Linked DNA regions of Homo sapiens. The protein of the gene in region 5 interacts with the protein of the main gene of each other region in a biochemical or structural test. Each region holds a gene or a part of one and is shown on either strand. Other genes may lie near its edges. The genes, in order: ARID1B, FNIP1, KHNYN, SAP130, CUL2 and UBXN7.

Region 1 (4,957 bases), on a different chromosome or scaffold from region 5:
TCTATTTTTTATTAATAGACTTTATTTCTTTATGATTCTGGGCAGGGTGTATCTATCTAAAAAGATGACTTCTGATGTAATAGGAACACTTGCTTTCCTAGGATAAATTCCAATATCACAGGCAAACCGAAAAGATGATCATTTCATTTATTTAACCCTACCCTTTCCTAGGAGATGAGTGATTTGATGAACATTTGTTAGGGTTCCATGAAATTTTCTACTCCGTTTGGAGACTCACTGGGGATGTAAATTTTGGATGTGCTGGCCTAGGACTCTGTATTCGCTTTTTTGCCGGTGTCCTCAATCTGGAGGCTTTTCTTGCAGCTCTACACTGGACTGACACTGCTCAGCTCATGGGGTTGTGTGCTTTGATCCATGTGGGTGGAAAAGGGACTGATATTTCACTCGTGTCACTTTTGTTTTGGAGTGTATGTGTAGATTTGTAAATTTGAGATTGATATTTATGTTTGATAGAAGTGTGGTGTGTTGCATAAAATGACAGATTTATGGAGGCTGAAAATATTAATAAAACTTAATTCCATTTTTTTTTTGCAATATTTAGGTTTTCCAGTTGGATGTTATAAAATTTTTATGACATTTTACACTGCTGTTATTACTCAAGGGGCCGTATCCACCTCTTAGGCCTTTTTGGGATTGGGTGGTTTTGGTTGCATGCCTTTTCGGAGGTGCCCTTTCCTGAATGGGAGGGAGGTTTTTGCAGGTTCTCTGTGGATATGTAAAGTAGTGCCGCACGCTTGCTGTGTGTGCTTGCTTGAGGCTGAGGAATCCCAAACCCTGTTCCCTGTCGTGTCCGGGAGAGGCACCAGGCAAAACTGTTCCTCTACCAAGAATATATTTCTGTATCATAGATGTAGAACTATTATAAATATCTTTTCTCTAGCTTGGAGGCTATTTGAATGAGACTCAATGGCCCTTTTGGTTTAATTGGGTAATTGAGTGAATTAATTCTGATCTAAAAACTTGGTGTACTTTAGCAACTTTTTCTTCAGGAAATTTGGTAAAGATAAAATGACTTAGGTATCAGTCATTACCTGAGTGTCCTAAGTATTCATTTGTTTTTCCTTATACTGACATCTGAATGAATGGAATGATAGACATATACTATATAGTTTTAATTAGCAATTCACTTTGAGTGAGTGAATTTTTTCAGAGTAGAATATGTGTTTCCACTGTAAGTTTTCACTAAATATGTTCTATTTTCAAAATCTTTGACTTGGAGTAATTCTAAGAAAATTCTTTCCTTACATTTAGTTATTTGTTTTTCTTTTTGAGACAGGGTCTCACTTTGCCACCCAGGTTGGAGTGCAGTGGCGCGATCTTGGCTCACTGTGGCCTTGACCTCCCAGATTCAAGTGATTCTCCTGCCTCAGCCCCGCAAGCAGCTGGGACTACAGGTGCACGCCATCACACCTGGCTAATTTTTGTATTTTTCGTAGAGATGGGGTTTCGCCATGTTGCCCAGGCTGGTCTCGAACTCCTGACCTCAAGTGATCCACCCTCCTCGGCCTCCCAAAGTGCTGGGATTACAGATGTGAACCATCCTGCCAGGCAAGATTTACTTACTTAAATAGGATCCAGTAGGCAGTTTTCAAACCCACATCTGTATGGATCAATGCCAAGAATATTAGAAGGCTACTGAGTTTGACAGATGAACTAATGATGAAATTAACTTGTTTCTTGGATGAGATTTATTACCAGGCACCAGACTAAAGCCCTAAAATCTTAAGCCTATCTGGTTTATGAATAGCTACTCTTATTTCCATTATTAAAATCAGGTAGATGGCAGCAGAATCTGGAGGAGATTCACCCTCTGTTGACCATCTTCTGTAAGGTGCACTTCTCAGTGTCTTCCTGGGCCTTGATGAATGATGAGCTGGAGAACTAGACCAGAAGCCATTCCTTATCAGGTGACTCTGGAAGGGAAGCCATATTTGATGAAATCCAGAAGAAATCCTGGACCATAATGCTACATTTTTTCTTTTTTTGTAATGGGATGCTAAAAAATTAAATATATGGTTTTTTTTTTAAATAGAGGTAAGCTATACGTACATAACATACAACTTACCATTTGAACCATTTTTAGGCATACATTCCAGTGGCATTAAGTACATTGTCATTGTTGTGTGGCTGTCACCATCATCATCTATCCCCAGAACTTTTCCTTCTCAAACTGAAATAAAAATATTTTTCTCTTTCTTTTAAAATTGTTAGCTGCTAATGTGTATTGTAAGTAAAATAATCTTGTTTTTGTAACCATTAATCTTATCACTTCATAGTTTGTGAGTAAATTCTTCCGCAGACATTCCATCAGGATGCTAATGGTTTTTTTGTTTGTTTGTTTTTGTTTTTTATTAGTACATTACTTCCTCTCAATTCTAACTTTGGGGTAATCCTCATAGAGTTTGAGGATCTCTTTGGAGATGTGTATTACAAAGGTTAGTAGTTTCACTGCCAGTTATGTTATTAAAATTTTGAAAAGCAGCTTTTTGGAACCTTTCTAAAGTTTAAAGGTTGAGGGTATTTGTTGAGAGAAACCTGGGACTTGGTTAGATAATAGGGTGTGGAAATGAACTGTTACCATTCTCACTTTTCCCTTGCTTTTCTTCCCTCACCTTTTGCATTTGTAGTCTCTTAAAAATTATTAATTTTATTTTCCCACTATTAGTGAAAATCATTTATAGTGATATTTTTTTCTATTCTTTCTGTGTTTGAAGTTTCTGGGCATCTCACCCCTACCAACCCAGAGCAAACCCAGAGTCTAGGTGGTGCCATGTCCTTTTCCATAGTGTTCTCTGCCACCAAATTTGTGCCTCCCCCTCATGTTTTTACTTTTTAGTCCTCTGCAAAACTTCAGAAATTCTTTGTATGTGGAAAAATTACTAAATTAAGATGATTGACCTTTTAGAATTACATTTTAAAGGCAGCTGTGAAGGGAGACTTCTAGATCCTGCCTAGTCTCATGAACAGGCGTCTTTGGTTTGTGTAAGGTATTGGAATTGTACTGGAATTGCTGCTGATGCTGATAGGTAGTCACATCTTTGTAAGATCAGTTATGTACTTTAACACCAGCTTCCACAGAGAGGAAATGAACTGTTACTTAAGAGCTTGTACTGGGAAGCAATAGTTATTTCTTTAAGGTGTAAACATTTAGCATTTGTGTATGCAGTGAGGTATATGTTAGATAAATATCTACTCCAGACAGTCAATTGGCAAATATTTATTGAGCTCCCACTTTCTTAATCAGCCCTGTGCCAGAGACAGACAATAGCTGGGGTCTGGGGATTGCTGCTGTTGGTGTGCGGATCATGCAGAGATACTGCTAACGCTTGCTCCCTCCATACCTGGATCGTGGTATTGCTGACATCATTGACTTAGAACTGGCTCATTTAAACAAATTGCAGATAGCAACCATGTGGGTCAGCAGTCTATTTGGCCTGCTTTTTTTTTTTTTTTTTCCGGTGGGGCAGTATATTTTGGCAAAACAAAATCTGGTCAACAACAATTGTAGGTTGTTGTGATATAGTTGATGTGATCTAGTGACTCTTTTCCATTTCTACCAATCAGTTACTGGCTTTGTGCCAGAGCGAAATATAGATTCACTACCGAGAATAATAACTAAAAGAAGGAAAATATAATCACTTTCAAATTTATATAGAATGGTCCTTTTTCTTTTTCTCAGTTTTCTACATTACATAGATTCTTGGAAAAAAAGTTAAAACAGTCTGTTCAGATTTAGGAAGATACTTGGATTGCTGGGGTATTTTTGGTAACTGTTTAGATAATGTATGCTGGCTGAGGAGTAAATTCAGCTACTGCTTCTGGGTCCTGAAATAAACCTTTCAGAAAGCGAGGCATTGATGATTAGTGGAGGCAGTTCCAGAATTCTTAGTATCTACTGTTTCTTTTTGTGATGAGCATCTTAGAAGTTAAACCACTCACCATATTTCATAGCCTTATATTGAAATGATTGTTAATTCTAAAATTCATTTAGAAGCTGGCGTCTAATTTGTGAAATCTTGAGAACCACCTTTTAAGATTCAGTGACCATATATCAAGCTACACACCCATTTTAATGCCCTTTAAATTTTCTGTTACCACTGGTATATTTTATAATAAATTCACTCTAACTAATGAATTATAAATGACCTTGGAAATAGGAATGTGGAACATTGCTACTGCTGAGCAAGTATCTTTCTGAAGAAGCAGACATAATTCCGAGGGGACTGGCATGTTTGCTGTGTATTAGTTTATTTTGGTGATTCTGAGGATTTGTGAGCGAATAAGCTTCTATGATGAGGCATCCTGACACAATGGTAAGATCATGGGCTTGGAGCTGGTCAGACCTTAGCTCATTTGGAGGCCTCAGCACCCATTTTCTCTGCACTCCAGCAGGGGGTCAGTTTCCTTACCTGGAATGTTGGCTGCTGGGCAGGGTTGTTGAAAACCTTCACTGAGGTCATGGATGTCTATCTGTGGCATCTGTATGTGGCCCCTCTCTTCTCTGCCTACCTGCCTTCCCATGTGGGGCTTGTTTTCTCATTCTCTGCCTGGTCCTGCTGTACTTCGGGGTGTGGCTGACTCAGGACAAGCCCTTGCTGGCATCAATTAGGTGATGCTCAGCCCCTCCCAGCTCCAAAAATCTGTGCTGCTTTGAATTTTTAAACAAATAGTGCCTAATCAGCTATGCACCGCTGAACAGCTTATTAAACCACACTAGATCCCAGACATATTCTGTGAATATAAACTGAGACCTGTGCAAATACATAGATTTTTGCATTCCACTGTAGTTTCCCTTACAGAATGTGGTTTTGTACTGATTGGGACTCTTGCTCAGCAGTTGTATAAATTGGTTTTGGTTTACCCACAGAGCCTACGGCTGATGCCATTGGCCCCAAGCTGCTACCCCATTCAATATCCCATCCCTAATATTAATTAG
Region 2 (4,957 bases), on a different chromosome or scaffold from region 5:
AAAATGTAGACACAGCACAATCCCTACCAAGTAAAAGCACAATATGCATAAAAAAGGCCTAAATAAGATTTTTCAGCAATGAGTTACTGTGTTCCCTTTGGGTGGCAAGAATGTCGATTTTCTTGCTATTCTGCTATATCCAATTTTCAGAGCTTTATGTTCCAAAACATCCCATACATCCTTCAAAATGCAGTCCAAATGAAACTTCTTCCCAATAGGAAGTCATTTCACTTTCCCCCAAATTTCTAAAAAACCTTTGTCCTTCCTTTTTAGCTTAGATTCTAATATTTCACAATTTACTATACATATTTGTATCGTATATACTATCTCAGTAGCAACTGACAAAAGTGATCACTCCTTCCTTGAAATACTTTCTGTACTTGGCTTTCCCCAAAAGAATACACTCTTGTTTTTTCTCCTAATTGAATAGCCAATCCTTTTCCTTCGCCTCTGCTGGTTCCTTCTCATCTCGTCAAACTCTTAATGTTAAAATGCACCACAACTCAGGCTTACCATTGCCTGTCCTCTCTTGCCAATCTCCATCAGTTTCATGGCTTTAAATACCATCTATACACTGATGACTTCTCTGGTAAACTCCAGACTCATAAAAACACAAGGATGTCCATATGCAAATATAAAATACCCATCTTCCTTTATCAAATCTGTTTCGCTTGCAGTCTTTCTCACTTCAATGCTGGCAACTTCATCCTTTTAACTGCTTGGCTAAAAAAATCTTAGAGTCAACCTTAATGATTAGTCTACCAGCTAATCAAACTGGCTGTTTTCAAAATATATCTAGAATCCAACTCTTTCTTACCAATTCAATCACTAAAGTGGTTTGCGTATTCATCATCTGGATTACTGTAACAGTATGCTAATTGGTCTCACAACATCTACTTTTGCTCCTAGAAATCTATTATCCACCAGCAGTAAGAGTGATCCTCATAAATAATGTCCTTCTTCCTCCACTGAAAACCCTCCAATGGTTTCCCATCTTTCATACTTTTGTAAGAATAAATGCTAATGTTCTTACAATGGTATCTTATAAGGTCCTACATGATCTAGTCTCACTTCAACCTAGGCACCTTGGCCTCGTAATGCTGCTTAAGTATCAGGCTTACTCCTGCAATAAGGCCTTTGCCCCTGCCTGGAATATCTCGTTCCAGATGGTTGTAGCTCACCTGCTCCGTATTTCTGGACCACATTCACATGTCCTTTAATAAGGGGCATTCCTGACTAGCCTATAAAAATTAGTAATCCTTCCTTGCAGGATCCCTTATATACCGTTCTCCGTTTTATTTTTCTTCACAGGACTTATTACATACATCTATATTCATATGTTTATTTGTCCCATGAGGTCAGAAGTGTTGCTTTTATCACTTCTCTTTAGTTGGTAGAACGGTGTCTACCACATTTTAGTCCCTCAAATATTTATTTACAGAACAAATGGATGAATGATCTTATATCTTTTACTAGACAGTAAGCACCTTAAAAAGGGTTCAATCTATTTGCATCCACCAGAGCACTTTATAGGACACATGCACAACGTCTGTTAATTTTTCTGCCAAATTAATAAATATAATGCTTAATTGGGAGAATAAGATTTTAAAAGGAAAATACATAAATAAATAACTATGCTTACCTGTTCTATTGCACTCTTTAATTTGTTCATGTGGCTTTCAAAGAGAGGAAAATGTGAAAAAAAGAATTCATTAAATTTGTTATTTTCATCTTCATCTTTGGACAATGAAAAGATTACCCCAATTGCAATCTTCTTTTTCCGCACAATTCCTGGGTTAGGGCCACAGCTTTCATCTGAGAGATTAAAGCTTTCTTCTATAGACCTTAAAAATAAATGATTTTTTATTAATTTACAAAAGTAAAAATAAATTCACAATTTAATCTTCTTGCTAATTAAATGTAGGTAAGCTAAGTCTTTTGCTGTTTTATCAAACAAACCTATAATTTCATACCAATTGTATATCTCTTTAAGAAATCTACTGGCTATTCTTTCAGGTTCATGTTCTTGTAAGAAATTTTACTACAGAGTCAGATTGGGAACATTTTTTTGTCCAATTAGAAGTAACTAAAGAAGTAGATAATCCCAATTCATAATCAACCAAAAAGTGGCTAAATTTTAAGATTTATAGATGAGTCTGGTACAATCTTTTCCCTGTTCTAGGCCCTTCTGGTGTCTGTTTTTGATTTCAGGAGTAAAGTCAAAGATGAAGGAATAAAGGAAATAAAAAAGAGGAGAAAACAAGAACTTTTAGTATCTACAGTTGTACTTAATGTAGATTAAAAACTAATCTTTCAAGAATGAATTACCTTGCCAAAATAAAAACATGAAAAACTGAAATATCAAAACATGTAGTATATAAATCAAAGACCTAAACATAAAACTCTTAGAAGAAAACAAAGGGTAAAGGCATCATGCATCATGACACTGATTTGGCAATGGTTTCTTGGATATAACACAAAAGGCACAGTCAACAAAGGAAAAAAAAATAAACTGGACTACATACAAATTTAACCTTTTGTGCATCAAAGGACACTATCAATGGAGTAAAAAGGCATCCCACAGAATGTAAAAAAAATTTACAAATCATATATCTGATAAGGGATCAATATCTAAAATATATACAGAATTTCCAGACATCACCAACAAAGCAAAAAAATGCAGTTATAATATGGGCAAAGGACTTAAATAGACATTTCTCCAAAAAAGATATACAAATAGCCAATAAGCACAAGAAAAGATGATCAAGTCAGATGTGGTGCCTCATGCCTGTAATCCTAGCACTTTGGGAGGCTGAGGCAAGTGGATCACTCGAGCCCAGAAGTTCTACTAACCTGGGCAACATGGCGAAACCCCATCTCTAAAAAAAAAGAAAAAAAAAAAATTAGCCAGGTGTGGTGGCAAGCCTGTAGTTCCAGTTATTTGAGAGGCTGAGGTGGAAGGATCACCTGAGCCCAGGGAGGTTGAGGCTGCAGTGAGCCGGGATTATGCCACTGCACTCCAGCCTGGGCGACTCAAAAGGGAAAGAAAAGAAAAGAATAGAAAAGATGTTCAACTTCACTAATTATTAGATAAATGCAAATAAAATCCACAATGAGGAACCACTTCAGACTCATTAAGATGGCTATTATCAAAAAAACAGAAAATAAGTGCTGGTGAAGATATGGAGAAATTGGAACCATTGTGCATTGCTGGTGGGAATGTAAAATGGTACAGTAACCATGGAAAACAGTGTGCAGCGTGACAGTTCCTCACAAATTTAAAAACAAAATTACCATATGATCCAGCAATTCCACTTCTGGATATATAACCAAAAGTATTGAAAATGGGGACTCGAACAGATACTTGCACACTCATGTTCAGAGCGGCATTATTCACAATAGTTAAGAAGTGGAAGCAACCCAAGTGTCCATCAATAGACAAATGGATAAACAAAATGTGGTATGTATATACAACGGAATGTTATTCAGTCATAAAAAGGAATGAATTTCTGACACATGCTACAACATCGATAAACCTTGAAAACATTATGCTAAATGAAATAAGGCAGACACAAAAGGACAAGCAGTGTATGATTTCATTCATACAAGGTATGAATGAAAATTCATAAAGACAGAAAATAGAATGGTGGTTACAAGAGGAAGAAAAGGGAGAAATGAGGAATTACGTTGAATGGATACAGAGTTTCAGCTGGGAAGAGGAAAAAGTTCTGGAGTTGGATGGTGATGATGGTTGCACAACAATATGAAGGTATTTAAACAAATGTCACTGAACTGTACACCTAAAAATGGTTAAAATTGTAACTTGTTATGTATAACTTACCACAATTTTAAAAATGTAGTAAATTTTAAAAGTTTTCAGTTTCAAACTTAAAATACACAGAATACAAGTCCAGGTTCTAAAAAACCCATATAAAATTGTGTTTAAGGAACTACTCAATCTTGTTCTGTGTTTAAAGTTCCAACTTACCATCTAGGAAATACCCCATTTTCCAAACTTGTTGTTTGGCTGCGTCGCCAACGTCGCTGGTAGCTGCTGGCACAACTTCGGGTAAGTGAGGAGTTTGGGGAAGGAAATGGAGTGATCAGCAAGCTGCTGAGAGATGCTGTTAAGTCAGAAGAACAACAAGTATAAGTCAATAATGACTAAGCATAATGACAAATTTCTTTTTAACAAAATTACAAATAGGTTAAGTTAAACTTTATTTTGCTTCATGAGCCTCAAAAATGTTCATTAAAAGAACACATCCTTCTTGTAGCAAGGTCTCAGAGGAGAAAAATCATATATTAACAATGTATCAGCAAAAAACTCTGAGACAATCCCCTTTTGGCATTCCCCTCTAGGGACTCCAGAAGAAAATTATACTTTGCAACAAGGCATTATCCCTTTGGCCACTGGATTGACTGTCCCCTAACTCAGTTGAATCCTTTTAGTTCTTAAATTAAAGGAAATCTGATGCTATTCAAACTTAATGCAGCAGCTGGATTTTAAGAACAAGCTATTGAAAATAAGTGTCTGAATGGCATTTAAAGAGGTCATTTACAAGTATTCATGGATCACATGTGCACATGTAGTCAAACCTACCACTTTTAATTAAGAATCATGACTATACCTACTAAGCTCCAAAAAAAGAATGCTCCCTGGAGCATCTAAGGTGACAAACACATTCCAGCAGACTCCACTCTTTCACGGCTGCAATCCCCTGATCTTGGGGATGGATTATTCCCTTCCCGAAACACTTCTGTGAAATCTGTAAGATATGTTTATTGCTTGAGGTGTTAAGAGCTACAACTGCTGATTTTTCATTAGGCTAGGAGATTTTCATCAGGCTTTTCCCCACTGGATTTAGAGAGGATAACACTTGCCATTAAGGGCTTGCTTTTGTTTGGCAATATTCCAGACTTCTATCTTTCATGATCATAAGCACATACTGAAAAT
Region 3 (5,619 bases), on a different chromosome or scaffold from region 5:
ATCTTTTTCGTATATTCACAAGGAGGGTAAATGAATGGAGGAGGACCCTGAGACAAAGAGGTTAATTCACTAAGAAAAGTTCCACAGTCAAAGTCAATGAGTAGTGCTACTTGAGGCTCAAATTCAGATCTTCCAATTCTAAATCCAGTGATCTTTCTATTATACCATGTTTTGTACAGTCCTATTATTCATGCGTTGTGTTTCTCCATTTTACTTGTTATTTTGACCTTTACTCTGGTTTTTCCAGAATGTTAGGGAAATTTCTCTGCATGTTTGGAAATTCAGGTTATAAGAAGACATCTGTCAGCTACTTATGTAACCAGCTTTCCCACCTTTCCACTAAACCAGTATTTTCTAGACAGTAAGGCACTATATAAATACAAGGTATCATTTTGTTTGATGAATGATGAATAGACAAACATGGTTGTCTACAGTTCATCTCATCACACCTGCAGGGCAGGTTTACCTACCCAATCATAAGGCACACAGAGGAATAACTGGCCCCTTACCCACCACCAAGGCTTAGAAACAGCGTAAACCACCAGGAGCTTTTCTCTCTCCCTCAGTCTTCCATAGGGCTCCTTCAATATCAAGCCTGGGGCCAGGAGAGGAGCAAGTACCTGTCATCATAGGAGGAGATCCTCTTGCCATCCATGACTCGTGAGGGTGTGAGGGAGAGCAGGCTGAGGGAATACAGCTTTTGCAGGAAGTGACTCTCTATTGAAAAAGAACATAATAGGGTTCTCCTCAAAGTGGAAACAGAGCCTATCCTGGGACACTGAAGACCAGGCCCAACTCACCTCTGACTTTGGCATCCTTACTGAAGCGCCACTGAGGCACAAAGACAGTTATGTCACGGTGACCACGGTCCCAGAAGTACTGCACAGCAATGGCAATGCCCCGGCTGGAGAAGTAGTGCTGGAGGCCATGCCTGTAGTGGGAGGGGGTCGGCCAGAGGAGGGGCTTGGCACCCTGGCTACAATGCCAGCCCCTCAGGACATATCCTCCCTCTCCTAGGCCCTTAGCCCCACCAGGTACTCACACCATGGCCACGTTGCTGCCGTCAATGACAATATGGCGGAGGTCTGGCTGGCCAGGCACATTGGCAAGGCACAGGGTGAAAGGATCCTGCAGGGCCTCCTTGAAACGCTGTGTGCCAGTCACCAAGTTGCCCCCTCGGGCGCCTCGTTTCCATTGAGGCCCCCGACCCCGTGCCATGCCCTGCTGCTTGTCTCCCCTGTCCCCCACGTCTCCCCGGTCTCCGCAGTCACCCCGGTCTCCACAGTGCCATGGGGGTTCCGGTGCAGGTGGAGGGCTGGGCACCCTCGGAGGAGAGGCATTCCCATTGTGGAGCCGCTGGAGGAGGGAGGCTCCTCGGGACTGAGCTGCCCTGTGACAGGAGCCATGGGCACCGGGAGGCTCACGGTGGACACAGAACCCTCCTCCTCCCAGAGCTATCTCCTCCTTCCCCAGGGCCTTCCCTTTCAGGGGTGCTGACTCCCTTGCCCCTCCACCCACTGACTGTGGCCTGAGGGCCACTTCTCTCTCCCACGCCTCTTCCCCAGGCAACTCCTTCCACCCCCAATCCATCTCCCTGGGACCACCCTGTTTCCCTCCCTCCTTCTCCACAGCGTAAGTGTCTCCCCTTGCTCCCCTGCAATCTCCGGGTCCCATAGATCCAGTGTCCAGGGACTCCCTGCCGTCACTAGGGGGAGCTCTCACTCCTTGGCACTGAGCACCCAGCAAGGCTGAGCTCCGCCCCTCCCAAGAAGCCAGTGCTCCTGGCCCCTGCCCACTAGACGCCTCCTGCACCAGACTCAGCAGCTCCTCCTGGACAGCCAGGGGCAACTGCAACAGAGCCTCTCTATGGGCATCCCCCGGGGACTGCAGCAGGGCAGAGAAGTCTCTCAGCACTCCAGTACACTGAGAGGCTCCGGAAGATGGTCCTGGCGTGAAGTCCCAGCTCAGCCGCTCTGCCAGCTCTTCTACCCGGCTCTGAGCCATGACAAAGGCTTCAGTCAGGCCACTGATCATCAGTGAGCCTGGCGCCCTGGGCACCAGATGGGCTGACGTGCTCCAGGCCAGGCAGTCAAGGAAGAAGCCCTGGGCTCCCAGAAAGATGCAGTGCAGTTTGGGCGGGTAGTGGATTTCATCCTGCAGTTCTGGGCTGCAGAGGCCCTTCAGGTACTCCTGGTTGGGAGGAAGGGAAGGTCAGGAAAAGTAAACTAACTGGCCCAGATCACCCCTCCTGGCTCCTTGCTCGCTCCTGAGCTCCAGGATGTCTGGAGTATCCACATGATGTTATTCCCATTTTAGAGATAAGGAAACTGAGACTCCCATCACAAAGCTGGTACATGATTGAGCCATCCTGGAACCCCAGCCTAATCCCAAAGGAAGCAATGTGGCCCAGCCTCCCACCCCACAGTGCATTCCTTGGTGGGGCCAACTTGTTCAGCCAGATATCTCTATTCTCCCAAAGAGCACAGAATGATTTTTGCCAGCCTGGGCCATCACAGAAGAAATTAAGCTGAAACTGAAAACAAATATAGAGTTGGAAAGTCCCTCAAAACTCAGGGGCACTGAGGTTGCCAGTGAGACAACCAAGAAGTGGAGATCCTCCCCAGGCCCCTCCTCTTCCCTGCTCTCCTCGGCCCTGCTCTCCTCCGCCCTGGGGGAAAGCGTCCTTGGTGCCTGGAGGGATGGGGGAGAGAAGGCGTTCACCTTGGCTCTGCTGGCGTTTTCCTTGGGGCCCTCCAGCTGCAGCCAGATGTGGGGGTTGTCCGGACAGTCCTTCGGAAGGACGCTCACCCCCACGCTGAAGATGCGCTCCACATGGGGCTGCTGTTCCCGAACCTTGTTCTCAGCCTCCGCAGACACCGCAAAGCGATCTGGGGACGCGGGGCGGGCCCCCCAGGTAGGCATGGCTGCTGCCCCCAGCCCTGGAAGGGGAGAAGGCAGCTCAGAGCCTCATTGTACCCTCCATCCAAATCCTGGTTCCTGGGACTACACCAGCTATCAACAGGTCGCACCTAGTTAAGGCTCTGGTAAACAGCCCCAGGAGGTGACAAGCATCTGAGTCCACTGGAGGTAGGGAGGGTGTATGTCACGCAGGCCTCTCCGGAGAGGAAGTCCCGGTAAACAAGGCTGTCTATCGAGAGTGGGCGTCTGGGCTTTGGAAAAGGATGACCACAGTCCGGAGCAAGAAGGGTGGGGGGGCTCCAGCTCGGCCTGGAGGCCAGAAGGAGTCTCCTGGGGCACTCTGAAGCTTCTTAAGGACGAATCCTCAGCAGGGGATTGAACTAGGCTGTCCTCTGGGGGCCCTGGTCTGCCATTTCCAAGGTTCAAGCCACTCCCACCCCTCCCCCAGCCGTCCGCTGCCCCTCTCCGTCGGGCCAGGAGCACCGCCCAGGGCCCAGGGGCCGGGCCGGGCCGGGCCCGCCCACCGCGGACTGGGGCAGCCACCCCGGGCCGGGCCTACTCCGCACCGCGGCCCCCGCTCCCCGCTCCCGGGCGCGGTGGAGGGGCGCGCCTACCGCCTCCGCCGCCCGCGCCGGCTTCAGGTCCTCTCAGCGCCCGCCAGGCCCCCGCTTTGCCCGCGCCCCCAGCCCAGGGGACAAGGGCAGGGGGCCCGAATCTGGGCGGGCCTTCCCGGGTTCCTCACCCAGCGGGGACCTCTCTTGTCCACATCGCACGCAAACTGTTTCTTGAGTCACTTCCTGGCCTGGGGCGGAGTCAGCCCAGCTCCTCCCGGCTGCGCGCCCTCCTCCCAACCCCGCCGCCGCGCCCAGAGGCCCCGACGGGCCCGCTCGGCCTAGTCCCCTCGGCGGCTCCAGGGCTCGCCCCTTGCGCTTCTCACCAGCCCTCCCGTCTGTCTCCCGGCCCTCAGGGTCCTCGCGCATTCTGCGCAGTTACTTCTCGGAAAGGGGAACCATGCGTTGAAAGTTGTTTCCCGCGAATAAAGATGTGGCCGACCAAAGAGGCAGCGTGACTGGCCCACTGGTGCTCTAGGCCCAAGCACTTTCCACCAAAGCAATCGTGGCGGAGGGGGTAGGCGGGAGGCGGGAGGCGGAGGGTACCCGTGGTGGAGTACCCCTTTCTTCCAACAAACGGAAAGATGCCACGAAGAAGGGCTGTTGATTTGTGGGGGATTTTGAAGAGAGGAAGAGTAGGAGGAAGGGGTTGAGGGGCTGCCTCTGGCATATGCACACACTCACACATTCTGTCACACCCGTCACACACACATACCATGTTCTCCATCCCCCCAGGTCCAGCCCTCAGTGCTGTCCCATCCAGCAGGGCTGCCCTGAAGCTCTGGCTGCAGCCCTCCCGTCCAGTGGGCAGGCGGCTTCATCCCTCCTTTCTCTCCCAAAGCCCAACTGCTGTCACTGCATGCTCTGCCAAGGAGGAGGGAACTGCAGTGACAGCAGGAGTAAGAGTGGGAGGCAGGACAGAGCTGGGACACAGGTATGGAGAGGGGGTTCAGCGAGCCTAGAGAGGGCAGACGATCAGGGTGCCGGCGGTGAGAATCCAGGGAGAGGAGCGGAAACAGAAGAGGGGCAGAAGACCGGGGCACTTGTGGGTTGCAGAGCCCCTCAGCCATGTTGGGAGCCAAGCCACACTGGCTACCAGGTCCCCTACACAGTCCCGGGCTGCCCTTGGTTCTGGTGCTTCTGGCCCTGGGGGCCGGGTGGGCCCAGGAGGGGTCAGAGCCCGTCCTGCTGGAGGGGGAGTGCCTGGTGGTCTGTGAGCCTGGCCGAGCTGCTGCAGGGGGGCCCGGGGGAGCAGCCCTGGGAGAGGCACCCCCTGGGCGAGTGGCATTTGCTGCGGTCCGAAGCCACCACCATGAGCCAGCAGGGGAAACCGGCAATGGCACCAGTGGGGCCATCTACTTCGACCAGGTAATCCCCCTACCCCTGTCCAGGGGACCTGGAAAGACCCTGCAAGGACCTGGAAGCAACTGTCCAAGCCCACTTTGCTGTCTCTGAGGCTTTAAGAAAACAGCTTCCTACATCTTTCACTAATCTGGCCTATTGCCCCACCACCCCACCGACGGTTTCCCCTCCCTCCACCCATACGCAGCCCTCTCCTTGCCCCTTCTCACCATTTCTTTTGAATCTGTTCACTCCTATTCACTCCTACTTGCCACTCCTTCTATTCATTACTCACTGCCCCTGCCCCTAGTCCCCATGGTACCCCTGAGCCATGGGCATTTCCTGAGCCCCACTCAGCAGGCTCTGCTTCCCCCAGGTCCTGGTGAACGAGGGCGGTGGCTTTGACCGGGCCTCTGGCTCCTTCGTAGCCCCTGTCCGGGGTGTCTACAGCTTCCGGTTCCATGTGGTGAAGGTGTACAACCGCCAAACTGTCCAGGTGACCTCAGCACTGGCCCCCATCCCCGGCTCAGGAGGGTGGGGAGGGGGAAGAAGGGGAGCCCAGCTGACCTCCGGGTGGACTCTCCATTGACCTGTGTCCTGGAGGCCAGGACCAGGGGAGGAATGGGCCTGCCTTGCATTGAGTGTGGAGGATGTGCAGAGTCCAATGCTGGCCGCCCCTCAGCCCTCCCGGGAGAGCCCATTAAAACCCAGCTTCCCAAGAGGAAGCTCCTGGGAAAGTGGGGGGTCC
Region 4 (4,957 bases), on a different chromosome or scaffold from region 5:
ACCAGGACTGTTAAGTTGCTCTGTGTGAGTCAGTGGGTGAGCAGGGAGTGAATGTGAAGGTCTAAGACATCACTGTACACTACTGTAGGCTTTATAAGCACTGTGCCCTTAGGCTACACTAAATCTATTAAAAATATTCTTCTTTCTTCAATAACAAATTAACCGTAGCATACTCTTTTTACTTTATAAACTTTTAAATTGTTTTAAACTTTTTGACTCCTTTGCAATAAAACTTAGCTTAAAACACATATTGTTGGACAAATGTGGATACTGTTGGGCGGTTACAAAAAATATTTTCTTTCTTTGTATCTTTATTCTATAAACTTTGTTTTCTTCCTTTTTTTTGAGAGTGTCTTACTCTGTTATCCAGGATGGAGTGCAGTGGTGCGATCATGGCTAAGGGCAGCCTTGGTCTTCCGGGCTCAAGAGTTCCTCCCACCTCAGCTTCCCAGGTAGCTGGGACTAGGGGGTGTGCACCACTACACCCGGCTAATTAAAACACTTTTTTTTGTAGAGACAGGGTCCCACTATGTTGTCCAGGTGGGCCTCAAACTCCTGGGCCCAAGCAATCCTCTTGCCCCAGCCTTCCAAAGTACTGGGATCACAGGCCTGAGCCACTGAACCTGGCCCCTTATGTTCTATTAAAAAAAAATTTTAACTTTTTATACTTGTTAAAAATTAAGACACAGTACAGCCTGGGCAACATAGTGAGACCCTGTCTCTACAATTTTTTTTTTCCCCGAGAGGGAGTTTTGCTCTTTCGCCCAGGCTTGAGTGCAGTGGCATGATCTCTGCTCACTGCAACCTCCACCTTCTGGTTTCAAGCAATTCTCCTACCTCAGCCTCCCGAGTAGCTGGCATTACAGGCGCCTGCCACCACGCCCAGCTTATTTTTGTATTTTTAGTAGAGACAGGGGTTTCACCATGTTGGCCATGGTCTCGAACTCCTGACCTCGTGATCTGTCCACCTCGGCCTCCCAAAGTGCTGGGATTACAGATGTGAGCCACCGTGCCTGGCCTCTACAAAAAATTTTAAAAAATCAGCTGTGTGCAGTGGCTCACACCTGCAGTCCCAGCTGTTTGGGGGTGCTGAGGTGAGAGGATTAACTTAAGCCCAGCAGGTTGATCATGGCTGTAGTAAGCCATGGTCGTGCCACTGCACTCCAACCTGGGTAACAGAGCAAGACCTTGTCTCAAAAAAAAAAAAAAAAAAAAAAAGAACAGGAGAGAGGGAGAGGTATGCCCCGGTCTCTGAATGATGATGTGTGTGACTGGCTTATCTGAGTAACATTGGAAATTGGAATACTGGAAGCTGGCAGGGAACTGGAGCCTACTACTCAGCAAGGAGCAGGAATTGTGTGCCTGGTCCCTGTGGTATGAAGGGTTGTTTGCCTAGGAGACTTCATCTGAGGGAGCAGAGTTGGGAGGAGGGACTCTCGGTTAGGCCGTTTGAGGCTCCCCCTATTTCAGATGTCACAATATCACATAACACTGAATCTTAAATTTAGGTCTTACACCACAGTTGTTCCATATATTTTGGATCTGGATACCAGAACTTAGATATATTTCAATTTTAATCACATGTAACTGACACAGTGTGATATTACATAGCACACATAAAAATTCTATCATAACCCATGTTAGCTGGGAATGCTTCAGAGTTACTTTTAAAAAGTTCTATGAACTCAGCTATCTGCAGTGTCTTCTCCTCTCTTCAGCATGATGAACAACTGCTAGAACTCCACCTACCAGCTGTAGTAACTGGGCAGCACAGAGGTGGACTTTCCAGCCTTGAGCACGACAGGATACTCCTTTCTGATTAGCTATTTCCTGCAGCATAGCTTTCTTCTCCTCTGGAACCATAAAAAATAAAAATACATGTATTTCAGTGTTTAAAAAGGTAAATGATTTGTGTTCGAGCAGTGTAAATGCCATTATTTTAACAAGAATTTTATTTTTTTTTTGAGACAGTGTCTGGCTCTGTCACCCAGGCTGAAGTGCAGTGGTACAATCTCAGGTCACTGCAACCCCTGCCTCCTAGGCTCAAATGATTCTCCCACTTCGGCCTCCCAAGTAGCTGGGACTACAGGTGTGCGCCATCATGCTGGGCTCACTTTTGTATTTTTTGTAGAGATGAGGTCTTGCTATGTTGCCCAGGTTGGTCTTGAACTCCTGGGCTCAAGCAATTTGCCTGCCATGGCCTCCCAAAGTGTTGGGATTATAGGCATGAGCTGCCGTACCTGGCCATAAGAACTTTTTTATTTGAGGTAATGGTTTCATCTAGGAGAGGCAAGCCAAGAGGACACCAGGCTGCTTACTCCCCTCCTTTACCTCCACTAAGTGCTACCTCCTAAAGCAGGGCTGTCACTCAGAGAGAAGCTTGCCACGTGTCAAGCCAGGGCCTCCCCCATCTCTAAGGCCCTGGTTCAAACATTTTGCCGGAAGAAGTGGGCTGTAAAACAGATACCTTCTAATTTCTTCCTGAAGGAAGTGAGTCCATTTGCAAGAGTGTGAAGAAGTTCAAACCTAAAGGTGCTCCCCATAACAGTGGAGGCTGTGGCAAAGGGAATTGGGGGAGATTTGTGAACTAATGAAGATATAGCCTAGACTATGTGCAGGCTGGTTTGAAGGAAAGAACAAAGCATAAGACAGCTGGGGGAGCCTTTCCAAGGGCAGAACAACTTTATCAAATCAAGGAAGAACCCTTCTTTTTCTGTTTTTGAACACTGTTTATCATGAAAAGGTGTTTAATTTTGTCAAATTTTCTATATTGATTGATACAATCATGTGATTTTTCTTCTTTAGCTTTTGTTGTGGGTTGAATGGTTTTCCCCCCAAAGACATGTTGAAGATCCTTGGTACCTGTGACTATAACTATATTAGAATGTAATGTAGTCTGACCGCAGTGGCTCACACCTGTAATCCCAGCACTTTGGGAGGCCGAGGCAGGTGGATCACTTGAGGTCAGGAGTTCGAGACCAGCCTGGCCAACATGGTGAAACCCTGTCTCTACTAAAAATACAAAAAATTAGCGGGGTGTGGTGGTGGGCGCCTATAATCCCAGCTACTCAGGAGGCTGAGGCAGGAGAATTGCTTGAACCCAGGAGGCGGAGGTTGCAGTGAGCTAAGATCGCACCATTGTACTGCAGCCTGGGGGACAGAGCGAGACTCCGTCACAAGAAAAAACAAACAAAAAAGGTAATTTGGTTAAGAAGTCATACTAGATTAAGGTGAGCTGTAAATCCAATGACTGGTGTCCATACAAGGAGGGAGGGAGACAGAGAAGTAGAGAGAGAGAGAGAAAAGGAAGGGGAGAGAAGGAGAGAGAGAGAGAAAGGAGGATGGGAGAGGCAGAGAGACACAGAGAAGAATGCCATTTGAAGATGGAGGCAGGGACTGGAGTGGTGCAGGTGCAAGCCAGGAACACCAAAGATCGCTGGCAATCACAAGAAACCAAAGAGACAAGGAAGGATTCTCCTCTACTGCTTTCACAGAGAACATGATCCTATCAGACCTTTATTCTGGACTTCTAGCCCCCAGAACCATGAGAATAATTTGTACTGTTTTATGCCACCCAGTTCACAGTACTTTGTTATGGCAACCCTAGGAAATTAATAAGGCCAGTTAATATGGTGGATTACTTTGGTTTTCAAATGTTGAACCAGCTTTGCACAGCAAGAAAAAATTCTACTTGGTCAAGGTATATACTGCTGGATCTGATTTGCTAATATTTTATTAATGCATTTTTACATCTATATTCATGAGGAATATTGATCTGTCATTTTCTATATTTGTACACTCTGTCTGGTGTTGATAGCATGAAAATATTGGCTTCATAAAATAAATTTGGAATGTCCTTGCCTATATTTTAAAAGACACTGCAGAGAAATGGATCATTACCTGGTCAGCCGATTATCTTATCAGTATGTAATATCCCTCTGTGTCTCTAGCAATTTTCTTTCCTCAGAATTTTACTCTATGTGACATTAATATAGCCACTCCTGCTTTTCTGTAAATTAATTTCATATTGTGTGAATTAATTTTGTATTGTGTGTGTCTGTGTGTGTGTGTGTGTGTGTGTGTGTGTGTGTGTGTTTTGAGACGGAGTCTCACTCTGTCACCTAGGCTGAAGAGCAGTAGCATGATCTCGGCTTACTGCAAACCTCCACTTCCCGGGGATTCATGCAATTCTCCTGCCTCAGCCTCCTGAATAGTTGAAATTACAGGTGTGTACCACCATGCCTGGCTAATTTTTATATTTTCAGTAGGGACGAGGTTTCACCATGTTGGCCAAGCTGGTCTTGAACTCCTGACCTCAGGTGATCCAGCCATCTTGGCCTCCCAAAGTGCTGGGATTACAGGCGTGAGTCACCACACCTGGCTTGTATGTATTTTTCCAGTCTTTTACTGTCAATCTACCTATGCCACTGCATTCAAAGTGAGTTTCTTGTACACAGCACATAGTTGGACTGTGTTTTTTCACTGATTCTGCCAATCTGTGTTTAATTGGTATGTTTAGACTATTTACATTTATGACAATAACTAGTATGTAAGGCTTAGGTCTGCCACATTACTATGTGTTTTCTGTACTTCTTTTTTGTTTCTCTTTTCTTTCCTGTGAGTTTTTTTTTTTTTTTTTTTTTTTGAGACAGAGTCTTGCTCGGTCACCCAGGATGGAGTGTGGTAGCGGTGGTGCGATCTTGGCTCACTGCAACCTTTGCCTCCCGGGTTCAAGAGATTCTCCTGCCTCAGCCTCCTGAGTAGCTGGGATTACAGGCACCCGCCATCATGCCTGGCTAATTTTTTTGTGTTTTTAGTAGAGACAGGGTTTTACCATGTTGGCCAGGCTGATTTTGAACTCCTGACCTCCAGTGATCCGCCCGCCTCGGCCTCACAAAGTGCTGGGATTACAGGCGTGAATCACCGCGCCTGGCCTCCTGTGAGTTTTAGTCTATCT
Region 5 (4,957 bases):
TACAATAGAGTGGTCTAAGTTGACTTCAGATAGTTAAGACACCATAATTAGTTTTTTAAATGCCACTCAATAGGCTTAGAGCAGATTTCCTTCCAAATGCATAAAATGAGAAAATACTGAAGACCCAATAAAGAGCCTTACAGCAGTCCCCTGCCTTATCCAAGGGGATACGTTTCAAGATCCCCAGGAATGCCCGAAACTATGTTTTTTCATATACATACATACCTATGATAAAGTTTATTATATAAATCAAGCACAGTAAGAGATTAACAAAAACTAGCAGTAAGATATAACAATTATAACAATATGCTATAATAAAAGTTACATGACCATGGTCTCTCAGAATATCTCACTGTGCTGTACTCGCCCTTCTTGTGAAGGTGTGAGACAATACAATGCCTATGTAATGAGATGAAGTGAGGTGAGTGACACATGCATCGGAAGGTCGGCATTGGGCTACTTACTACTGACCTTCTGTATTCCTGAATATGTGTTACAGTCCCTGACTTAGAGTAAATGGTTTGGTGTCATTCGTCTCTGGGGATCCCTTGCTGAGTCTTCAAATAGGCTCAATGCTTTCTGGCACAGTATGTTGCCATCAAGTGGAACTTGTCTCTGCTCATGTCTTCCACCCACCAGTGTAATGCCTTTTCCAAATTAACTAAGCACTTATTACACGATATAACTATCACTTTTACAGATTGAGATTTGACAGCAAAACTAGTAAGAATTTCTTTCTTCACAATTTCTTTTCTTTCATAATTGTGAAGAAAAAGAAATTCTTATTAGACCTGCTTACAGTAGGTCTTAGCAATCTCAGTCTATTATTTTTTTCTTTCCTCATTGAGAACTTTCAACTTTTCGTGTAAAGGAAGCACTCTATGGCAGAAGCCTCTCTGGTGTATCCATATTGCTAGGATCACTACTCCTGTACTTTGGGGGCCCTTACTAAGTAAAATCAGGGTGACTTGAACACAAATACTGCAAAACTGCAACAGTCTATCTGATAATCAAGACAGCTACTAAGTGACTAATGGCAGGAGGCATCCACAGCGTAGAGATGCTGGACAAAGGGATGATTCACGTCTGAGCAGGACAGTGCAAGATTTCATCACACTACTGAGGACAGTACAGAATTTAATTATGAGTTATTTCTGAAATTTTCCATTTAATATTTGCAGACCCCATTGACCGTGGGTAACTAAAATGCAGAAAACAAAACTGTGAATAAGGGAGGCAGGGAAGTGGAATACCATATTAACTTGGCATTATTTTCCATTTCCATAGGTGGGCCCAAAGCTGCCAATGGTGCACAATGACCAAATATGTTGCCATCATTTAATATTAAAATAAGCTCCAAGAATGCATCTAAACATTTTCATCTTGCTGTATCAAATGAGCAAGCCACTGGATGTAACTAAGAATGCCCTTTCTTATTTGGAGGTTAAGGGTGCAATGTTTTTTGTTGCACTAAGGTTTGACCCACAGAGCTCTAAGTACTCCATAAACAACATTTCCATCATGACTTTCTGGCTTTAGAATTCCTATTTTTATTTATTTATTTATTTATTTATTTATTTATTTATTTATTTATTTTTGAGACAGGGTCTTGTTCTGTCACCCAGTGCAGTGGTGTGATCCTGGTTCACTGCAGCCTTGACCTCCTGGGCTCAAGTGATCCTCCCGCCTCAGCCTCCTGAGCAGCTGGGACTACAGGCACACACCACTGCACTGAGCTACTTTTTTGTATTTGTAGAGATGGGGTTTCACTATGTTGCCCAGGCTGGTCTTGAACTCCTGAGCTCAAGCTTCCACCAGCCTTGGCCTCCCAAATTACTAGGATTACAGGCGTGTGCCACCGCACCCAGCCTAGAATTTCTAGTAGGTTTTTTACAAAAACAAATGAGTTGGGGAAAAAAGAGTGAACAGACATATGGTGTGTGCCAAAATGTATACTGCAGGAAAACATCTTGAAGTCTCAAAAAGGGTGACACGGTGGGGAGTAGGGAATGTATTCATAATACAATAAGTTACAGAAGCCATTTGCACCCAGGTGTGGTGGCTCACACCTGTAATCCTAGTACTTTGGGAGGCTGAGGTGGGAGGATCACTTGAGCCTGGGAGTTTGAAAACAGCCTTAGCAACATAGACAGACCTGGTCTTTAAAAAAAAATAAAATTATAGTAGCTGGGCCCTCTGGTAACATGCGCCCGCAGGGAGTCCCAGCTACTCAGGAGGCTAAGGTGGGAGCTTGGCTTGAGCAAAGGAGACTTCAAGGTTACATTAAGCTACAATGGCACCACCACACTCCAGCCTGGGCCAAAAGACCAAGATCTTGTCACAAAAAAGCAGCTACCTGCTTCCAAAAATAAACCCACTGCACCAGAATAAAAGACCCCTCTCTGCAATGAACTTTAGACTCCCATAAGACTGCACAGCCTATACTTTGTTTCTTAAGTTTTCACATCGCTCTTATCAGCTTGAAGTTTAACGCCATTTTCACTTGCTTTCTCATTTTTTGTTCAATAATCTAGTCAACGAATTTAAGAAACTGACATTTTTAAAAAAAACTATTCTCATATATGTATCCCCGATCTCAGGTAAATTAGAGAATTTGAATTTCTGAGTCCTTCATGACTAGGCAAGCCCATCGTGTATGAATACTAGACAAAGCTAGAACCAACCAGCCTTTACACAAATTATCAAAACATTGAGAACAAATTTTTTGGCTGTGTGCAGTGGCCCATACCTACAATCCCAGCACTTTGCGAGGCCAAGATGGGCAGACTGCTTGAGCCCAGGAGTTCGCAGCCAACCTGGGCAACATGGTGAACCCCGCCTGTACAAAATACAAACAGATCAGCCAGGTGTGGTGGCATGCACCTGTAGTCCCAGCTACTAGGGAGGCTGGGATGGGAGGATCACTTGAGCCCAAGATGTGACCGCACCACTACAATCTACTGTATTTGCTGACTGCTATATAATACATTAAATCCTGCCTATGTCCTGACACTGCTATAGAAGACACAGGCATGGAAGAATAATTAAAAAGGGGATACAGTTATGGCAGATGCATATCAATTAACCCTCTAGCAACTTTCTTGACACCTCCTGTTTACAATCCCAAAGAGAGCCAGTGAGTTGGATCAAGTTTGTAATCCCAGCATTTTGGGAGGCCAACGTGGGAGGATCACTTGAGCTCAGGAGTTCAAGACCAGCCTGGGAACACAGCAAGACATCATCTTGACTGAAAAAAAAAAAAAATTTGCCTGCAGTGAGTTATGATCACACCACTGCACTCCAGCCTGGGCAACAGAGCCAGACCTTGTCTCTCAAAATAAAAAGTTCCGATATATGCTACGACAAGGATTAACCTTGAAGATATTACGCTAAGTCAAATACACTAGACACAAGGTGAAAAATATCTTATGGTCCTATTTAAACAAAAGTATGTATGTGGGCAAATTCATAAAGACAGAAAGAAGGATGAGATGTTATCAGATGCTGGGGGAAGGGGAAATGGGGAGCTACTGCCTAATGGTTGTACAGTTTCTGTCTAGTAACGAAAAAGTTTTGGAAATGGTGGTTTTGGAAATGGTGGTGAGGGTCACAATGACACTGTAAATGCAGTTAACACCACTAAACTATACCCTTAATGACGGTTAAAATGGTAAATTTTATGTCATGTATGTTTTAAGTGCTTAAAAACTAGATCACAGGTACAAAGTTCTGATGTCAGAGAAGTATCTGAATCTCACTGCAAAATGCTCTCTAAAAATTTTTAAATGGATGCATTCTAATCAAAATAATACTTGGTACTATGATGACAAAATACTATTTTTGGTTCAGACAGACTTTTATCAAATAAAAGAGAAATATCTTGAGATAAAATTTTTCTGAAGGCTCAGGACTACTTGGGGATCTTTCTCTTGATGTCACATTATTCATTATTTTGGTAACTATACACTTACATAATTACAAAGGTATCTTTGGCTGAGCATGGTGGCTCATGCTTGTAATCCCAGCAGTTTGGGAGGCCAAGGCGGGCAGATCACTTGAGGTCAGGAGTTTGAGACCAGCCTGGCCAACATGGTGAAACCCCATCTCTACTAAAAATACAAAAATTAGTCGGTGTGGTGGCAGGTGCCTGTAATCCCAGCTACTCAGGAGGCTGAGGCAGGAGAATCGCTTGAACCCAGGAGGCAAAGGTTGCAGTGAGCCAAGATCGAGCCACTGCACTCCAGCCTGCATGAGAGCAAGACTCCATCTCAAAAAAAAAAAAAAAGAAAGAAAAAGAAAAAAAGAAAGCTATCTTCTATTTCCCACCGTCAGAAAATAGCAGTTATAAATAAAGGGGAAAGGCAAGCATTAATCCTGTGGTAATGAGTTGTAATCAAAGGTATCATTTACAAACTCATGGTTTTGAATACACAAACACACATATACATGCAGATAAAAAGATATAAACATAGATGTTTGTGTATGCATGGTTGAATATACATATATTTCTAGCTCTGTTCACTGAGAAGGGCCTAGGAGGAATGACACCACAGTGGCAATGGGCACACATAGAACTTAGATCTTGGTTTCTAAATATCATTCTCCAAAAAAAGGAACCAGAGCTCCTCCTTGGAAAAGTGATTGATTCCAGGGCTGAAGCAGGAAAAATACAAGTTGAACCTAGAACACCTATGATGTCAGAAAATAGAAGGTGCTTTCCCCCCACAAAGAGGGTGGGGGCATATCGAAAGGACACAAGTTAAACTAAAGGTCAAAACTGGAACAAATCAGAGCAACAAAATAATGAATGATAGGATTAGATTATAAACCATAGGCGGGTCACAGTGACTCATGCCTGCTGTAATCCCAACACTTTGGGAAACCAAGGCAAGAGGACTGCTTGAGCCAAGGAGTTCAAAACCAGCCTGGAGCATAGCCTGTACTTTCTCTCCTTCAA
Region 6 (4,957 bases), on a different chromosome or scaffold from region 5:
GAAATACTTCTCAATTCATTGTGAGGTCAGCATTAACATGTTACCAAAAGCAGAAAACGACATTATAAAGCATTACATGGAAGAAAGGAAACAACAACAACAAAATGCTCTCAAAAAAACTATAAATCAAGCAGGAGAACTGCTTGAGGCCAGGAGTTCGAGACCATCCTGGCCAACAAGATTTCTATACTATCCCTTAGGGCTTTTCCTTAAATAGGCACTTTATTATAGGTGATAACTGAAGGAAGTGTTCCTCACATCTTCTAAAACTATTTTTAGGCTGGGCATGGTATGGTGGTTCATGCTTATAATCCCAGCACTTCGGGAGGCCAAGGGAGGAGAATTGCTTGAGCTTAGGAGTTTGAGATCAGGCTGAGTAACATATTGAGACCCTGCCTCCACAAAAAATAAAAAATTAGCCAGGCATGATGGTGCACACCTGTAGTCCTAGCTACTCAGGAGGCTGAGGCAAGAAGATTGACTGAGCCCAGGAGTTCAAGGCTAGCAAGTTTTTTTTTTTTTTAAAGTTCTCTCAAGGCTGCAAAGACTACAGTGAGTTAATATCATGCCACTGCAGTCCAGCCTGGGCAACAGTGTGAGACCACATCTCAAAAAATACAATACAATACAATAAATACAATACAATACAATAAAAATGTTGCTAGGTGTGGTGCTCACACCCAGAATCCCAACATTTTGGGAGGCTGAGGCGGGAGGATTGCTTGAGGCCAGTTTGAGACCAGCCTAGACAACATACGGAGGCCTCCGTCTCTACAAAACTTTAACAGCTTAGCTGGCATGGTGATGCACATCTGTGGTCCCAGCTACTTAGGAGGCTGAGGTGGAAGGATCGCTTGAGCCCAAGAGGTGGAGGCTGTAGCGAGCCATGATCACACCACTGCACTGCAGCCTGAGAAATGGAACAAGATCCTGCCCAAAGAAAAAAACAGGACGGGCGCGTTAGCTCACGCCTGTAATCCCAGCACTTTGGGAGGCCGAGAAGGGCGGATCACTTGAAGTCAGCAGTTTGAAACCAGCCTGCCCAACAAGGCGAAACCCCATCTCTACTAAAACTACAAAAATTAGCCAGATGCAGTGGTGTACGTCTGTAATCCCAGCTACTTGGGAGGCCAAGGCAGGAGAATCGCTTGAACCCAGGAGGCGAAGGTTGCAGTGAGCCAAGATCACACCACTGCCCTCTAGCCCTAGCAACAGAACAAGACTCTGGCTCAAAAAAAGGAAAAAAAAAAAACCAACAAAACAAAACTATTTTTATCCCTACTGCTATCAAAGCCAAACAGCCATGAAAACCAATGTGAGATTGCTGTATCTTTGCAAGTTCAGTCTCTTATTTGCAACCAATCTTGATACCAATTATCAAACATGTCTACCTAGTAATAGTATATTCTAGAAATTAAGTATAGAAGTAAATTCTAGGAGGGCCAGAGAGCCAGGCCCTAAAGCTATATTAACCAATAAAAATGCTCAACTATACCATGACAGTTGTTTCAGCAAAAACAAAAAACACCACTTCCAGCCGGCTGTGGTGGCATGTACCTGTAGTCCTAGCTATTCGGGCAGTTGAGGTGAGAAGGCTGCTTCAGCCCAGGAGTTCTAGGACAGTCTGGGCAAAACAGCAAGATCCCACTCCAAAACAAAAAACAAAACACACAAAAAAACCAACCACTTTCACTGCTATTTAGACCTGGATATCAGAAGCCCTCCCAGAGCTGCCCCTCAGGAAGTAGACACCTTTACCACTAGGCTTGCCAGGTCAGTCCTCCTGCCCAACCTATTCACATTGCTTCCTTCTAAATCCAGATCCTGGGGCATCTGCCTGCACTCTAGCTGCAAGACAGACTGGCAGGAGTATGAGTATCATGATTTCACCAAGAAGATGGAACTCTCATGTGGGAAATTATCAAAATATAAGGAGGATATCTAAGATGCTATAGCCACAGTGATAGTTGTCCACTAGTTAGATTATCTTTACCATCTTAACATCGAACATTTTATATAAGATGCTTATGACCAATTACATTTATTTTCCCATCACCACCTCCTAATTATACTTACTGAACGGGCACATTTTTTGGGGGGACTGCTAGAAAGTCCATCCAGTTGTCCATGTTCACCCAGAAATCCCGTCACTTGGTCCAAGAAAGAAGATACATCTAACTGGTGCCATTCTACTAGCTTCTGACCTAAGGATTAAAAACCAAGATCTATAAATAAATATAATATCTAGAATCCTTCTGAACATTCTCCAGGATCTATAAATATAATACCTAGAATCCTTCTGAACACTCTCATTAAGTATCTCTTTCAGCATATGCATAGATTAAAAACCTGGATCTATAAAGGTAATATCTAGAATCTTTCTGAACATTCTTATTAAGTATCTCTTTCAGCATATGCATAGATTAAAAACCAGGATCTATAAAGGTAATATCTAGAATCTTTCTGAACATTCTCATTATCTCTTTCAGCATATGCATACATTAAAAACCAGGATCTGTAAATATAATATCTAGGATCTTTCTGAACATTCTCATTAAGTATCTCTTTCAGCACATGCATAAAGTGTACTGTAAAGACATATCCTCTCCACCAGCTTATGCTACATAGTGTCTTCATAACCTAGAAGTCACATCAATTATACTCACCTAACAGATTCCCACCCGTAATGATAGGGCAACTATCTTATCTGCTGCTATCACTTACTGCCATTTAGGAAGAAGAGATTCAGACAAAGCAATATCTATATAAAACACCATCAATTAATAAAACCAGCTCCACCCTCTGCTTCTCAGGTGGGATTACAACTAGTATCTGGGCAATCTTAATATTTTAATGATAAAAAAAACTTTTGTCTTGTTTTGTTTTTTTGAGATGGAGTCTCACTCTGTTGCCCAGGCTGGAGTGCAGTGGCGCGATCTCGGCTCACTGCAACCTCCACCTCCCGGGTTCAGGCCATTCTCCTGCCTCAGCCTCCCAAGCAGCTGGGACTACAGGTGCCCGCCACCATGCCCGGCTAATTTTTTTTGTATTTTTAGTAGAGATGGGGTTTCACCGTGTTAGCCAGGATGGTCTGGATCGCCTGACCTCATGATCCGCCCACCTCGGCCTCCCAAAGTGCTGGGATTACAGGCATGAGCCACCACGCCCAGCTGGTAAAAAAACTTTTAAAAAATCCCTTAAAAAAGGTAAGATGAACATATCAGTTATTCTTCAAAAGAACAGAACTGCACAAACATAAAATACTACCATCTCCCAATGTTGCCAGAAAAAGATGTCCTAAATACATACATCAATAGATGTTTAAATAATTATAAAGGGAAAAAAACGAAACCTTCACCTAAATTACTGCAATTCTGAAAACAGATCCAGTCAAATATTAAAGATCAATCATTTAGGTAACTGAAAGACAAGTAATAGGTTAAAAGCTGCGTGCTGATATAAATCTTACCTGTCCGTGGGTCCAATATGGAAACATAGGGGAAATCCCCTAACTTATAAAACTGTATGTATCTCTGACCTTCCTCACTGTCATGATAAACCTGTTAAATCATTGATATAAAAAAAAAAGTCAGCCTCTAAGAAAAGAACCAACTATAACCTTCTTATACACCAACATCAATTAGCTCTCCAAATATACCTCCGGCCTATGTATTAAGATCTCACTCCTACACTAAAAAGAAAATAAATCTGGTTTGAACTCCTTCAACTTCCCACTTCCAGCACTCTCTGGAAATTTACCATAAACATATTGACCCATTCCTCCTCCTTTCCCAGTTCAGATGAGGTATTATTCTTCCTGCTCAAGTTATCTGTCAACTATGTCATTCATAACTCTCAACCATATACATCTTAATAAATCACAATATATTAAGATTATGGGCCAGGCATGGTGGCTCACGCCTGTAATCCCAGCACTTTAGGAGGCCGAGGCGAGTGGATCACAAGGTCAGGAGATTGAGACCATCCTGGCCAACATGGTGAAACCCCGTCTCTACTAAAATACAAAAATTAGCCGGGCCTGGTGACAGGCGCTTGTAGTCCCAGCTACTCGGGAGACTGAAGCAGGGGAATCGCTTGAACCCGGGAGGCAGAGACTGCAGTGAGCTGAGATCGTGCCACTGCACTCCTGCCCAGCGACAATGCAAGACTTGTCTCAAAAAAAAAAAAAAAAAAAAAAGATTATGGCTCCACATGGTGGCTCGCACCTATAACCCTAGCACTTTGTAGGGCAGAGGCAGAGGACAGCTTGAGGCCAGGAGTTTGAGACCAGCCTGGGCATCTCCACGAGAAGTTTTTTTGTTTTTTTTTGTTTGTTTGTTTGTTTTTAAATTAGCCAGGTTTAATGGTGTGCACCTATAGTCCCAGCAACTCAGGAGACTGAGGTGGGAAGATCCCTTGAGCCTATAGGGGTTAGAGCCTGCAGTGAGCTATGACTGCACCACTGTGTTCCGGCCTGGGTGACAGAGCAAGACCCTGTCCATTTATTTAAAAAAAAAAAGAAAAAAGAAAAGAAAAGAAAGAAAGAAAAAAAGATTATAAGCTCAAGAGTCCAGCACAGTGCTAAGCAAAGAGCTGCTCGATCAATATTTGTTGAATAAAATACAAGGAATTTTACCATTAAAGTTACATTAAATTTAGGGGCCTGTAAAATATAAACAGGCAAATTAATAACATTAATAGCATATCTTACAGTAGGGGAAAAAATTAAGCTCCTTCATAAGTTTTTATTTTCTATAACTTTTCACAAAATAAAAAATAAAAAAATTGAGCCGGCACGGTGATTCATGCCTATAATCCCAGCACTTTGGGAAGCCAAGGGAAGCAGATGGCTTGGGCCCAGGAGTTCGAGACGAGCCTGGGCAATATGGCAGGACCCCATCTCTACAAAAAAAAAAAAAAAAAAAAAATTATATGGGCATAGTGGTGCATGTTTGTG

Evidence for each region.
Region 1: the proteins of CUL2 (region 5) and ARID1B form a complex in vitro, tested with the Homo sapiens proteins (one study listed by BioGRID).
Region 2: of the proteins of CUL2 (region 5) and FNIP1, one has a biochemical effect on the other in vitro, tested with the Homo sapiens proteins (one study listed by BioGRID).
Region 3: the proteins of CUL2 (region 5) and KHNYN form a complex in vitro, tested with the Homo sapiens proteins (one study listed by BioGRID).
Region 4: the proteins of CUL2 (region 5) and SAP130 form a complex in vitro, tested with the Homo sapiens proteins (one study listed by BioGRID).
Region 6: the proteins of CUL2 (region 5) and UBXN7 form a complex in vitro, tested with the Homo sapiens proteins (one study listed by BioGRID).

The regions. Positions count from the first base shown.
Region 1 is NC_000006.12:156,783,488-156,788,444, forward strand, and holds part of ARID1B (AT-rich interactive domain-containing protein 1B), read left to right. Parts: intron 1-4,957. UniProt on the Homo sapiens protein: Involved in transcriptional activation and repression of select genes by chromatin remodeling (alteration of DNA-nucleosome topology).
Region 2 is NC_000005.10:131,702,423-131,707,379, forward strand, and holds part of FNIP1 (folliculin-interacting protein 1), read right to left. Parts: intron 4,125-4,957; coding exon 3,989-4,124; intron 1,845-3,988; coding exon 1,643-1,844; intron 1-1,642. UniProt on the Homo sapiens protein: Binding partner of the GTPase-activating protein FLCN: involved in the cellular response to amino acid availability by regulating the non-canonical mTORC1 signaling cascade controlling the MiT/TFE factors TFEB and TFE3.
Region 3 is NC_000014.9:24,428,034-24,433,652, reverse strand, and holds the start of KHNYN (protein KHNYN), read right to left. Parts: upstream 3,700-5,619; 5' UTR 3,534-3,699; exon of another isoform or gene 3,030-3,533; intron 2,940-3,029; coding exon of another isoform or gene 2,923-2,939; coding exon 2,722-2,922; intron 2,191-2,721; coding exon 1,043-2,190; intron 932-1,042; coding exon 801-931; intron 718-800; coding exon 621-717; intron 1-620. Other genes in the region: CBLN3 (cerebellin-3 precursor), read left to right, coding at 4,599-4,898, 5,248-5,367.
Region 4 is NC_000002.12:127,943,707-127,948,663, forward strand, and holds part of SAP130 (histone deacetylase complex subunit SAP130), read right to left. Parts: intron 1,854-4,957; coding exon 1,750-1,853; intron 1-1,749. UniProt on the Homo sapiens protein: Acts as a transcriptional repressor. May function in the assembly and/or enzymatic activity of the mSin3A corepressor complex or in mediating interactions between the complex and other regulatory complexes.
Region 5 is NC_000010.11:35,078,885-35,083,841, forward strand, and holds part of CUL2 (cullin-2), read right to left. Parts: intron 797-4,957; exon of another isoform or gene 714-796; intron 1-713.
Region 6 is NC_000003.12:196,365,952-196,370,908, forward strand, and holds part of UBXN7 (UBX domain-containing protein 7), read right to left. Parts: intron 3,561-4,957; coding exon 3,470-3,560; intron 2,205-3,469; coding exon 2,077-2,204; intron 1-2,076. UniProt on the Homo sapiens protein: Ubiquitin-binding adapter that links a subset of NEDD8-associated cullin ring ligases (CRLs) to the segregase VCP/p97, to regulate turnover of their ubiquitination substrates.